3 linked regions of the Homo sapiens genome follow. The protein of the gene in region 3 interacts with the protein of the main gene of each other region in a pairwise test. Each region holds a gene or a part of one and is shown on either strand. Other genes may lie near its edges. The genes, in order: ARHGEF6, PAK1 and GIT1.

Region 1 (3,822 bases), on a different chromosome or scaffold from region 3:
TTAGAACTGCAAAGAAGCTAAGTAAACCTTCTGGCAGCTTTAGAATGCAGAAATCATTGGCAACTTCACCATGTTTTTATTTGAAAAAAAAAAATACCATAGTATTGGCCAGGCGTGGTGGCTCATGCCTGTAATCCCAGCATTTTGGGATGCCAAGGTGGGCAGATCACTTGAGGTCAGGAGCTTGAGATCAGCCTGGCCAACATGGTGAAACTCCGTCTCTACTAAAAATACAAAAATTAGCCGGGCGTGGTGGCGCGTGCCTGTAATCCCAGCTACTTGAGAGGCTGAGGCATGAGAATTGCTTGAGCCCAGGAGGCAGAGGTTGCAGTGAGCAGAGATGACACCACTGCACTCCAGACTGGGTGACAGAGCAAAACTCTGTCTCAAAAAAAAAAAAAAAAAGGAATAAAAAAGAAAATATCATAGTATTTATTAAAGAAAAATTTAAAATTTCCTGAAGAGTCTGGACCATAATAGAAAAAAAAAAGAAAATTCCATAGTAGACATTATTCTACAAGGGATATAAAGTGGTCACCCATCACACCTACCTCAAAAGTCACACACACAGACCCACACATAAATAGAGAGAGAGAAAGAAACAGAGATTGAGAGAGAGAGTGCAAATTAGGCAATAGGGGAAAATGGAATAAAATATTCTGAAACAGATATAACCTGGTCCTAGGGCTAACTTTAGGAAAAATGGTGAAGGAAGCAAAGTTTATCTGGGGCAAAGCTACCAGCATTGCTAATAATAATATCTACCATGCAGAGAATACTTACTACATTCCGGGCACTCTTCTGGGGCCTTTACATATATGAATTCCTTGAAATGTCACATGATTCTATCAGACATTCAAAGAAAAATTGGTACCAATCCTTCTAAAACTATCCCAAAAGACAGAGAGAGATAATCCTCCCTAAATCATTCTATGAAGCCAGTATTACCCTCAAACCAAAACCAGAAACAGACATGACAAAAAAAGAAAACTACAGACCAGTACCCCTGATGAACATAGATGCAAAAATTCTCAACAAAATACTAGGTAACTGAATCCAATACCATATCAAAAAGATAATACACCATGATCAAATGGGTTTCATACCAGGGATGCAGGTTTGGTTTAACACATGCAAGTCAATAAATGTGATACACCACATAAACAGAATTAAAAACAAAAATCACATGATCATCTCAATAGATGCAGAAAAAGCATTTGACAAAATCCAGCATCCCTTTATGATTAAAACCCTCCACAAAATCAGCATGGAAGGGACATACCTTAAGGTAATAAAAGCCATCTATGACAAACCCACAGCCAACATTATATTGAACAGGGAAAAGATGAAAACATTCTTCCTGAGAACTGGAACTGGACAAGGATGCCCCCTTTCACCATTTCTGTTCAACATAGTCCTGGAAGTCCTAGCCAGAGCAATCAGACAAAAGAAAGAAATAAGGGGCATCCAAATCGGTAAAGAGGAAGTCAAACTCTCACTGTTTGCTGATGATATGATTGTATACCTAGAAAACCCTAAAGACTCATCCAAAAAGCTCCTAGATCTGAAAAATGAATTCAGTAAAGTTCAGGATACAAAATCAATATGTCAGTAACACTACTATACACCAACAGCAACCAAGCTGAGAATCAAATCAAGAACTCAACCCCTTTTACAACAGCTGCAAAAAAAATAATATACTTAGGCATATACCTAACCCAGGAGGTGAAAGATCTCTACAAGGAAAACTACAAAACACTGCTGAAAGAAATCATAGATGACACAAACAAATGGAAACACATCCCATGCTCATGGATGGGTAGAATCAATATTGTGAAAAAGACCATACTGCTAAAAACAATCTACAAATTCAACGCAATTCCCATCAAAATACCATAATAATTCTTGACAGAACTAGAAAAAACAATCCTAAAATTCATATGAAACCCAAAAAGAACACACATAGCCAAAGCAAGATTAAACAAAAAGAACAAATCTAGAGGCATCACATTACCCGACTTCAAACTATACTACAAGCCTGTAGTTACCAAAATAGCATGGTAGTGGTATAAAAATAGGCACATAAACCAATGACACAGAATAGAGAACCCAGAAATAAAGCCCAATACTTACAGCCAACTGGTCTTTGACAAAGCAAACAAAAACATAAACTGGGGAAAGGACACCCTATTCAACAAATGGTGCTGGGATATTTGGCAAGCCACATGTAGGAGAATGAACCTGGATCCTCATCTCTCACCGCATCTCTCATCTCTCACCTCTCTACAAAAATCAACTCAAGATGGACCAAGGACTTAAATCTAAGACCTGAAATCATAAAAATTCTAGAAGACAACATTGGAAAAACTCTTCTAGGTATTGGCTTTGGCAAAGAGTTCATGACCAAGAACTCAAAAACAAAGGCAACAAAAACAAAGATAAATAGATGGGACCTAATTAAACTAAAAAATTTCTGCACAGCAAAATAAATAATCAGCAGAGTAAACAGACAACTCACAATGTGGGAGAAAATATTCCCAAACTATGCATCTGACAAAGGTCTAATATCCAGAATCGACAAGGAACTCAAACAAATCAGCAAAAATAAATAAATAGATAAATAAATAAATAAATAAATAAATAAATAAATAAATAAAGTAGAAATAAAAATAAACAAATAGGCCGGGTGCGGTGGCTCACGCCTGTAATCCCAGCACTTTGGGAGACCCAGGCGGGCGGATCACCTGAGGTCAGGAGTTTGAGACCAGCCTGGCCAACATAGTGAAACCCTGTCTCTACTAACAACACAAAAATTAGCCAGGCATGGTGGCGGGCGCCTGTATTCCCAGCTACTCAGGAGGCTGAGGCAGGAGAATCGCTGGAACCAGGGAGGTAGAGGTTGCAGTGAGCCAAGATCACACCACTGCATTCCAGCTTGGGCAACAGAGTGAGACTCAGTCTCAAAAAACAAAACAAAACAAAAACAAAAAACAAATAATCCCATCAAAAAGTGGGCTAAGGACATGAATAGACAATTCTCAAAGAACATATACAAATGGCCAAGAAACATATGAAAAAATGCTCAACATCACTAAGCACTGGAAATGCAAATCAAACCACAATGAGATATCACCTCACTCCTGCAGAAATGGCCACAATTAAAAAAAAAACAAAAAATATTAGATGTTGGCATGAATGTGGTGAAAAGGAAACACTTCTACACTGCTGGTGGGAATGTAAACTAGTACAACCACTATGGAAAACCTTAAGTATGGAGATTCCTTAAAGAAGTAAAAGTAGAACTACCATTTGATCCAGTAATCCTACTACTGAGTATCTACCCAGAGGAAAAGAAGTCACTATATGAAAAGGACACTTGCACACACATATTTATAGTAGCACAATTTGCAATTGCAAAGTTATGGACCCAGCCTAAATGCCCATCAGCCAAAGAGTGGATAAAGAAAATGTAATATACATATATATAATATGTATACATACACACACACACACACACACACACACCATGGAATACTACTCAGCCATAAGAAGGAACAAAATAATGGCATTCACGACAACCTGGGTGGAGGTGGAGACCATTATTCTAAGGGAAGTAACTCAGGAATGGAAAACCAAACATCATATGTTCTCACTTATAAGGGGGAGCTAAGCTATGAGGATGCAAAGGCATAGGAATGATGTAATGGGCTCTGGGGACTCAGGGGGAAGGGTGGGAGTAGGGTGAGGGATAAAAGACTCTACATTGGGTACAGTGTACACTGCTCAAGTGATGGATGCACCAAAATCTCAGAAATCACCACT
Region 2 (3,600 bases), on a different chromosome or scaffold from region 3:
TTTACTTGTCTACCTCACCCATTAGACTTTGAGCTCTTTGAAGACAGGGAATATCTTAATAGACTGAATCCCCATAGCCTTAGCAAGAGGCCTGAAACATAGTAGCTCTCCGAACTCCAGTAATGTTGGATAAACGAATTGACTGAATAAGCAAATTTACCAAGGTAGACCCATGAGCTCATGTAGTTAAAGAGTATGGATAAGCTTCAGGGAAAGTATGGGAAGTTTTCAGGGTCAATGTTCCCAAAACCCTTTTTGAAAGGCATAGTTTCTAGTTGAGGTGGGGAGTTTTTATATGCACCTGACTTAGAATTTTCCAAATAGGAACCAAAATGTTGTAAGTGCTGTGGTAGAAATCCCACCGGGCCAATGGGAAGAAATCAGCTCTGTCTGTAAGAGGAGAGACAGGATGGAGGCCAGCAAAGACTTCACAGTGTGGGAATTCTTCAGTGGACTCTTGAAAGCTGAGTCCGGTGCTTGCTACTTGCCCGTTTTGGGGCATAAAACCAAACTTCTGGAGCTTTTAAGGCTGGAAGTGACCTGCTCAAGGTCACACAAGAAGTAGATGAAGCCACAGGGTAAGAGAGATGAGGTATCTGTACTGATAATTCCTACTTTCTCCTGACAGAGTTGAAAGAGAACCCAAAAATGTAGGAGGCAAAATTAAAGATTGTTCTCAGGAACAATTCTTAAAGTCAAGACTAATGAATCTGAATTTTTATTAGTAACCACGGAACTAACCCTTCCCTTCACTGTTCACAGTTTTTGTAACAGTAGAACAATTATCCAAGGGGTTTAAAAACCAAGGACGTTGCTCACAACGCCACACCCACTACTTCTCAAGTATTCTTCCAAAACACTCCCAGTAATGTGTACTGCTGAAATAGGATAGCGAAGGCTACAACAATCATGTCTTTTCAAACGTAATAATGAACATAAAATAACTATAAATCTCCTTCCCCGGTTGTTTTTCACTTCCCAAGTTACAGAATATTCCGGGGTGGGGGAGGGGCTGCGTAAGTCAAGTCCTACCAGCCCTTATTTTTCAGGGAGTAGAACCCTAAAGGTGACTGTCCAAGCCTGGAAGGGGTCATTTATTCCATGCAGAAGGAACTGGGCGCCGCTTTGCTGTGCCTCCTCGTAGCGGGACAGGGTGAGCGCCGCAGGACTGCGAAGTTCGGGACGGACTCGGTCCCGGACCGGTACTCGTGTGGCCTCCCGGCTCCAGCCTGGCCTGGCCCCGCCCCGCCCCTTCCCTCTCCCAGGTCTCTCGAATCGCCCGGCGTCTGAGACCCGCGACCCCGCCGGTACGCGCACAGGGGGCCTTTGTTGGCCCGACGGGAGCGGGCCTCGCGGGGCGCCGCCCGCCTCACCTTACCTGGCGCCTCCTCCCGCCCAGGCGCCCGGCCCCGCAACGCGAAATAAATGGGCCCAGACCCCCACTCCACCCGTCCCCACCCCCGCGCCCCAGCCCTGGCAGCCCGGGACGCGAGGGGTACTGGGCGGTAGGCCCGCTCTCACCTTCCGCGCTCGCTCAGCTCCTCTCGGCTCCTCCTCCTCCTCCCGGCGGTGGGTGCCGCCTAGCCGGGAGTGAGGGCGCGAGTGTGCGCGAGCTACCGCTTCACTTTCTCCCTCCTGCCGCCGCCGCCGCGCTGCCCGTGGCGGGGCTCCCCTCAGGACAGGGGAACTGCGAGGGAAGGGATGATGGGGGGGCGGGAGGGAGCGAGGCGACGCGGGCGGGGGGGGAAGGGGGGACTGAGGGGCGAGGTGCGAAGGGCTCAGATGGCCTCTGAGGCAGGAGGTGGTAACTGGATGCGGAGACCAGGTTCCTCGAGGGGGCTCACGAAAGCGCGGGGCTCCGTGGAAAAGGGAATGAGAGTCCAAGGGGGAAGGCGTCTGTGGGGGAGGACTGCAGAGCCTGTGAGGGAAGCGCGATGGGCGAGCGAGGGGGCGGGAGCGTGTGGGGGAAGCCGTGAGGGGGCGTCTACTGTGCAGCCACCACCTTCGGCTCCGGCTGCAGCCGCGGGAGGGCAGCCTCCCCCGCCCACAGCCGCGCTATTGTACGCCGCCCGGCAGGCCTGACCGCCTAGTTCACTGGCTCCCCTACTCCTCCTCCTCCCGCCTCCTCCTCCCCTCTGCCCTTTCCCCTTCTCCCCCTCCCCCTCCCCCACTCCCCCTCCCCGGCGCGGCGGCGGCGGCTGCGGCTCCGGTGGAGCCGTGCCCGCCCCGCCTCCCGCAGGTGAGAGGGGGCGGGGAGGGCCTGACCGACCCGTGGGAGCGAGGCCAAACCCTGGCCCGCATGAGGGCGAACGCCTGGGATTACGTCATCGGCGCGTGACGCCAGAGGCTGGGGAATCACCCGCTTGCTGCGTGACGTCATCGCGTCGCGTCACTGTTCTCGGTCCGCTGTCCGTGGCGGGTTGTTTCCGTGCAGCCTTTCTATCAGACAATTTTGGGACGATTTCTGGGAGGGCTACTGTAGTAGTCAGGATGGAGAAAGACGGCTAACTTCCGGCGCTGAGGGTCCTTTTCAGGTTAACAAAGCACCACCGCATCTATGAGCTCGTTGTCAAGGGCTGAATTTGAAAACTATCCGATGTCGTGTGATCTCACAGCCAGACATGTATTATGTTTTCTTTCTGTGGGAGAGGGGGCAGGGGTGGGAGGAAGACAAAGAAATTATAACGGAGATGTTTGAACTAATGTGAACTGACATACGAAAAGAATGGGCTTCCTTTCACGTTTTTTCCCCTACCGTGGAGGGTACTTTCGACCCAAAGCTTTCTTTCTCCTGAGCTCAGATTGTGTATTTCCCAATACCTCCCGAGCAGCATTACCTGCATACTCTTCGTACCTCAGATTCAACATGTGCGAAACTGAGACAGCATTAGAAAGGCTAAGAGTCCGGAATCAGGTTGCCTTGCTTGAAATCCTAGCTATTCAAATATTAGTGATAGGACCTTGACATTTCTAAGCCGTAATTTTTCTGTAATAATAAGTAGTACCTTAACTAGGTCTTCCTAAGCCTCAGTTTTACCATGGTAATAGTAACAAGCCCTTTAGAATGTTGGCTATTATTATTATTTCCCCCCCAAAATTGCTTCTTACGTTCCTTTCCGTTCTCAATGAATGGGCCACCCATTCAACAATCCCCTAAGCCAGGAACCTAGACATACTAATAGCTCCCCGTTCTTCCTCTCTCAACATCCATATCAAGTTGGACACCAAGTCTTGTAGCTTCTCCTAAATATTTTTCAAGTCCTTGCCTGTGTCGTCTTCTACTACCACCACCTGAACAACTGGAGCAACCTTTAGTCTCTTCAAACTCAATCTATTTTTCTCACTAGTTACCTGAGTAGCCTTATAAAAGCACAAATCTGATGATGTCCTCCCGTTTAAACACCGAAAGGATTTTATTGCTTTCAGGATAAAGTTCAAACTCCTGAACTTGGCACTTTATTACCTGACTGCTTACACTAGCCTTTCTAGCTTTGTCTCACATCATTTATTTTTTGCTCCAAGCACACTGAAATATTAACGTTATTTGAATACACATTTCTTCATGTCTTCAAGCTCTTCCCTACTTAGCTGACTGGCCAA
Region 3 (3,822 bases):
TGTGTTCCTGCCTGCCTGGGGAGTCCAAGAGAGGAAGGGGGCAGGGAGCCCTGGAGAATGTGCATCTTCCCCTTTCCTTAGGCTTGGCCCACCTCGCCACACGATCTCAGTCAAGGGCCTCTCCTCACCCCATGGGCTTCTATCTCAGCCTTTTCCACTTTGGCAACCCTGGGGGTGAGAGTGAAGGCCTCAAGATGCCTGTCCTGTAGGTATCTCTGGTGAGCAAGGCCGGGGACATGTTACGGGACAAGCTACAGGCTGATTTGTCTCTTCATAGTGTAGATTGCAGAGTGGGACAAATGTTGGGCTCCTCTTCCTCCCTTATGGAGGTAGAATTTGTGTGTGTCAATGCCTGCACCTGAGTGTTCATCCTGATGGGCTTTTACATGTGTGTATACCCATGTAACTACTGCTCTGATCATGTTATAGAATAAGGGTATCCAATCTTTTTGCTTCCCTGGGCCACATTGGAAGAAGAATTTTCTTGGGCCACACCTAAAATACGCTAACACTAATGATAGCTGGTGAGCTAAATAAAACAAGCAAAAATAAAAATAAAAAATAAAGTCACAAAAAAGTCTCATAATGTTTTAAGAAAGTTTATGAATTTGTGTTGGGCCACATTCAAAGCTGCCTGGGCCGCATATGGACTGCAGGTTAGACAAGCATGTTATAGAACATTTCCATCACCTTAGGGGGCTTCCAAGTACCCCCTCCCAGTCCGTGCACCCCAGAGGTAACCACCATTCTGACTCTACCCCAAGGACTACTCTCGCCTGCCTTCATGATGTGGGCTTTTCCCTTAGTCTAGTGGAGATCTGGCCCTTAGCTCAGGGGAGGGAGGCCTGAGGCTAGCCTGTATGTGCAAACCTACTGGCCCTGGAGGCCACTGATGGCTTCAGGTGGTGGCAGGAATTCACCGTAGTAGAGGCCTCCATGGGGTTGGCACTGGTTAACGTGATCCCAGGATCACGCCTGCTACCTCTCCACACATACAGACCCATACCCTGCCGGTGGAGCCAGAAGCGCAGGGGGAGGGCTGACGAGTTCCCTTACAGTTCCTGTCCTTTCCGTCCCAGGTTTGGTCCAAGGAGCTTCTTGACGCAAGGATCCCTTCACCTTAAACTACAATCTGGGTAGTCCCAAGGGCACTTGCACAGAGGGAGGAGACAGAATGGTTAGGGTGGGCGTCCCATCTGTGTCATCCAGAAATGAGCTGACACCAATAGCGGCTGCCCAGACCAGGACAGTGTCCTTTGCCTACCATTCTTCTCAGGTCACCTGGAGGAGAAGGAGAACCCCTCCCCCAGGCTGGGGGAAAGTGCCAGGCAAACCCTTGGACCACACTCCTGCATCCTGGTCTTGGTTACTGCCATAGCCAGGGTCACTCACCACATCTGGTCTGCCCATGGCTTAGGGCTCTGGAGCCATTGGCCGTGGATATATAGTCAGCCTTCCATGCCTGGCTTCTCCGGTAGGACCACAGACCTCAGATCAGCCCATTTATGATCCTGCCCTGGGCGGCTCCCCACTTACAGGAAACCCCACCAAGAGGAATTTGGGCTGCATCATTTCCGGCTTCCTGCCTGGGCTGCTGGAGGTGGCTGGCTGGCAGCCCCCTGACCCAGTGGTGTTTGGAGTGGGGAGAGGGAGGTCTCCACACCTGGGGTGCCTCACTATTTGGGTAAAGCCAGCCCAGAAGTGCATGCTAGGGCTCCCCCTCTTGGCGAAGAAGGCTGGTCCCTTCCTCCTGAGCCCTGGAGTCAGCCCCCCAGGAAGGTGTTGGCGGTCACCTTGGGCATCCCTCTGTTGCCCTGATTGGGAGGGGGTCCCTTAAAAAGCCTAAACCCGCTGCACTCCAGCCTGGGCGACAGAGCGGGACTCCGTCTCAAAAAAAAAAAAAAAAAAAAAGCCTAAACCCAAAGACAGGCCTCTCTCCTTTACTTCCTGTTTTCATGCCTCAGTGGGGGTCACTTGCTGTGGGCAGAGCTCAGGCTGGGCCCCTGACTCAGAGTCTCCTCAATTTTCCTGGGAACTTTGGTGGAAGTCCTTAGAGGGGAAAGGCCTGAGAATTGCCTTCTAGTTGGGAGAGATTCTTATCCCCCTAAGCCTGTCCCTCCCCTGATGGGGATACTTCTGAACACCCTGAGCGCTACAGGGCAAGGCAGAGAGCCAGTCCCCCACCCCCACCCCAGGACAGGGTTTCCTGAGACAGGGTGGGGGCCGCTGGGCAGAGCAAAGTGTCCTGGGAGAGAGGCGCCCTGCCCCCACTCTCAGGCGGCACACAATGGCTGCTTTCTCCCCCGTGACCTTTCCGCAGCCTGAGTCGTATGCAGCTGTCTCCCAAGGGGCCTAGGATGGGTGGCATCTCCTCCACCCTTGAGAAGAACCCCGGAACTCCCACCCAGTCCTGGCCCTGCTTCTTCTCCCAAGTTCACTTTTCCCAAAAGAGTGGAGAGCAGGCTATAGAGGCAGAGGGACAGCAGCAAGTGTGGACATGGCATGGTCTCAGGCATGAAAGTGCCACATCCTGGCAATTCTACTCATTAGCCTCGCATCCTTGAATAAGCCCTTTAACCTCTCTGAGCCACTGTTTCTTCATCACAGAGGTAGCATGTCCTACCTTGCCTGACAGTTGCAAGCAGCATCACACATAATGTACCCAGCTGGTACCTAGTGGGTGCCCAGTCAAGCCCAGCTCCTTTGCTCTGTCCATCTTCCTTAAGAGGGCTCCAGCTTACACCCTCAGTGATGATGGCAGGAGGCTCCAGCATGAAAGGACCTCACCTGCTGGCAGGAGGCCAGAGGCAGGACCTGTGGACGGGTGTGATCTGTCAGGCATGTTTCAACAGCATCTGGCATGCAGCAGCATCTGGGTTGCATCCCCTTGGGGATCCCTTCCTCCCTTCGGGACGGGCTGGGGCAGAGACCTCGTTTCCTGGGAAAAGGCTGAGAGACTGGTAGCAGTGGCTGCAGGGCAGGAAACTGTGCCTGCTGAATGGGCCCTGGGGACTGCATATCCCAGAGGGGTAAGGATGTAGGAAAGGGCATGGCTCTGTCAGCCCCCAGCTGTGAGCTCTTGGGGAGATCCCTCACTGGTAACCTGGCCGTAGTGATGGTCCCAGCTCCTAGGCTGTTGGAGACTGAGTGAGTGAATGTGTGGAGAGTACTAGGCTTGGCACGGGCCAGAGCAGGTGCTCAGGAGGTCTGGCCCATCATCTGGCTCCGGCTGACCCTTGCCCTCACCCTGGCAGACCCTGGCTGGGCATCCATCAGCAGGGGTGTGCTGGTGTGTGACGAGTGCTGCAGCGTGCACCGGAGCCTGGGACGCCACATCTCCATTGTCAAGCACCTTCGCCACAGCGCCTGGCCTCCCACGCTGCTGCAGGTACAGGGCTCAGTCGGGTGGTTCTTCCTTCCCCTCAGGCAGAGTGTGCTGAGCATGAGGGCGTTTCCCCCTCACCCACATACACCCCCATCTGGAATCTGCAGCTTCCAAGGGGCAGCACCCCCCTAGGGCAGAGGCTAATCCTGACCCTTTCCTCCCATCTACTCACTTCATGCAGAAGAGTAGCTCACACCCCTGCTCTGCCACTTATCAACGTGGTCGTGTAGCATTGAGCAAGTTGCTTCACCTCTCTGAGCCTTGGCACACTCATGGGATCTGTGTCTTTGGGCAGCTGGACTAGATGGAGGTGTGGTGGTGCGGGCACACAGTAGGCCCCCTTGGTACCGTTTCCAGCTACGCCAGCCACAGCAGGCGCTCAGGAAGTGTTTCCCCCATTGCTTAGCACGCAGTGGGCACTCTCTCACTTGGCATCT

Evidence for each region.
Region 1: the proteins of GIT1 (region 3) and ARHGEF6 interact in binary tests that used the Homo sapiens proteins (3 or more experiments, as listed by UniProt).
Region 2: the proteins of GIT1 (region 3) and PAK1 interact in binary tests that used the Homo sapiens proteins (3 or more experiments, as listed by UniProt).

The regions. Positions count from the first base shown.
Region 1 is NC_000023.11:136,774,263-136,778,084, forward strand, and holds part of ARHGEF6 (rho guanine nucleotide exchange factor 6), read right to left. Parts: intron 1-3,822. UniProt on the Homo sapiens protein: Acts as a RAC1 guanine nucleotide exchange factor (GEF).
Region 2 is NC_000011.10:77,472,031-77,475,630, forward strand, and holds the start of PAK1 (serine/threonine-protein kinase PAK 1), read right to left. Parts: upstream 2,065-3,600; 5' UTR 1,522-2,064; exon of another isoform or gene 1,379-1,521; intron 1-1,378. UniProt on the Homo sapiens protein: Protein kinase involved in intracellular signaling pathways downstream of integrins and receptor-type kinases that plays an important role in cytoskeleton dynamics, in cell adhesion, migration, proliferation, apoptosis, mitosis, and in vesicle-mediated transport processes.
Region 3 is NC_000017.11:29,583,049-29,586,870, reverse strand, and holds part of GIT1 (ARF GTPase-activating protein GIT1), read left to right. Parts: intron 1-3,254; coding exon 3,255-3,388; intron 3,389-3,822. UniProt on the Homo sapiens protein: GTPase-activating protein for ADP ribosylation factor family members, including ARF1.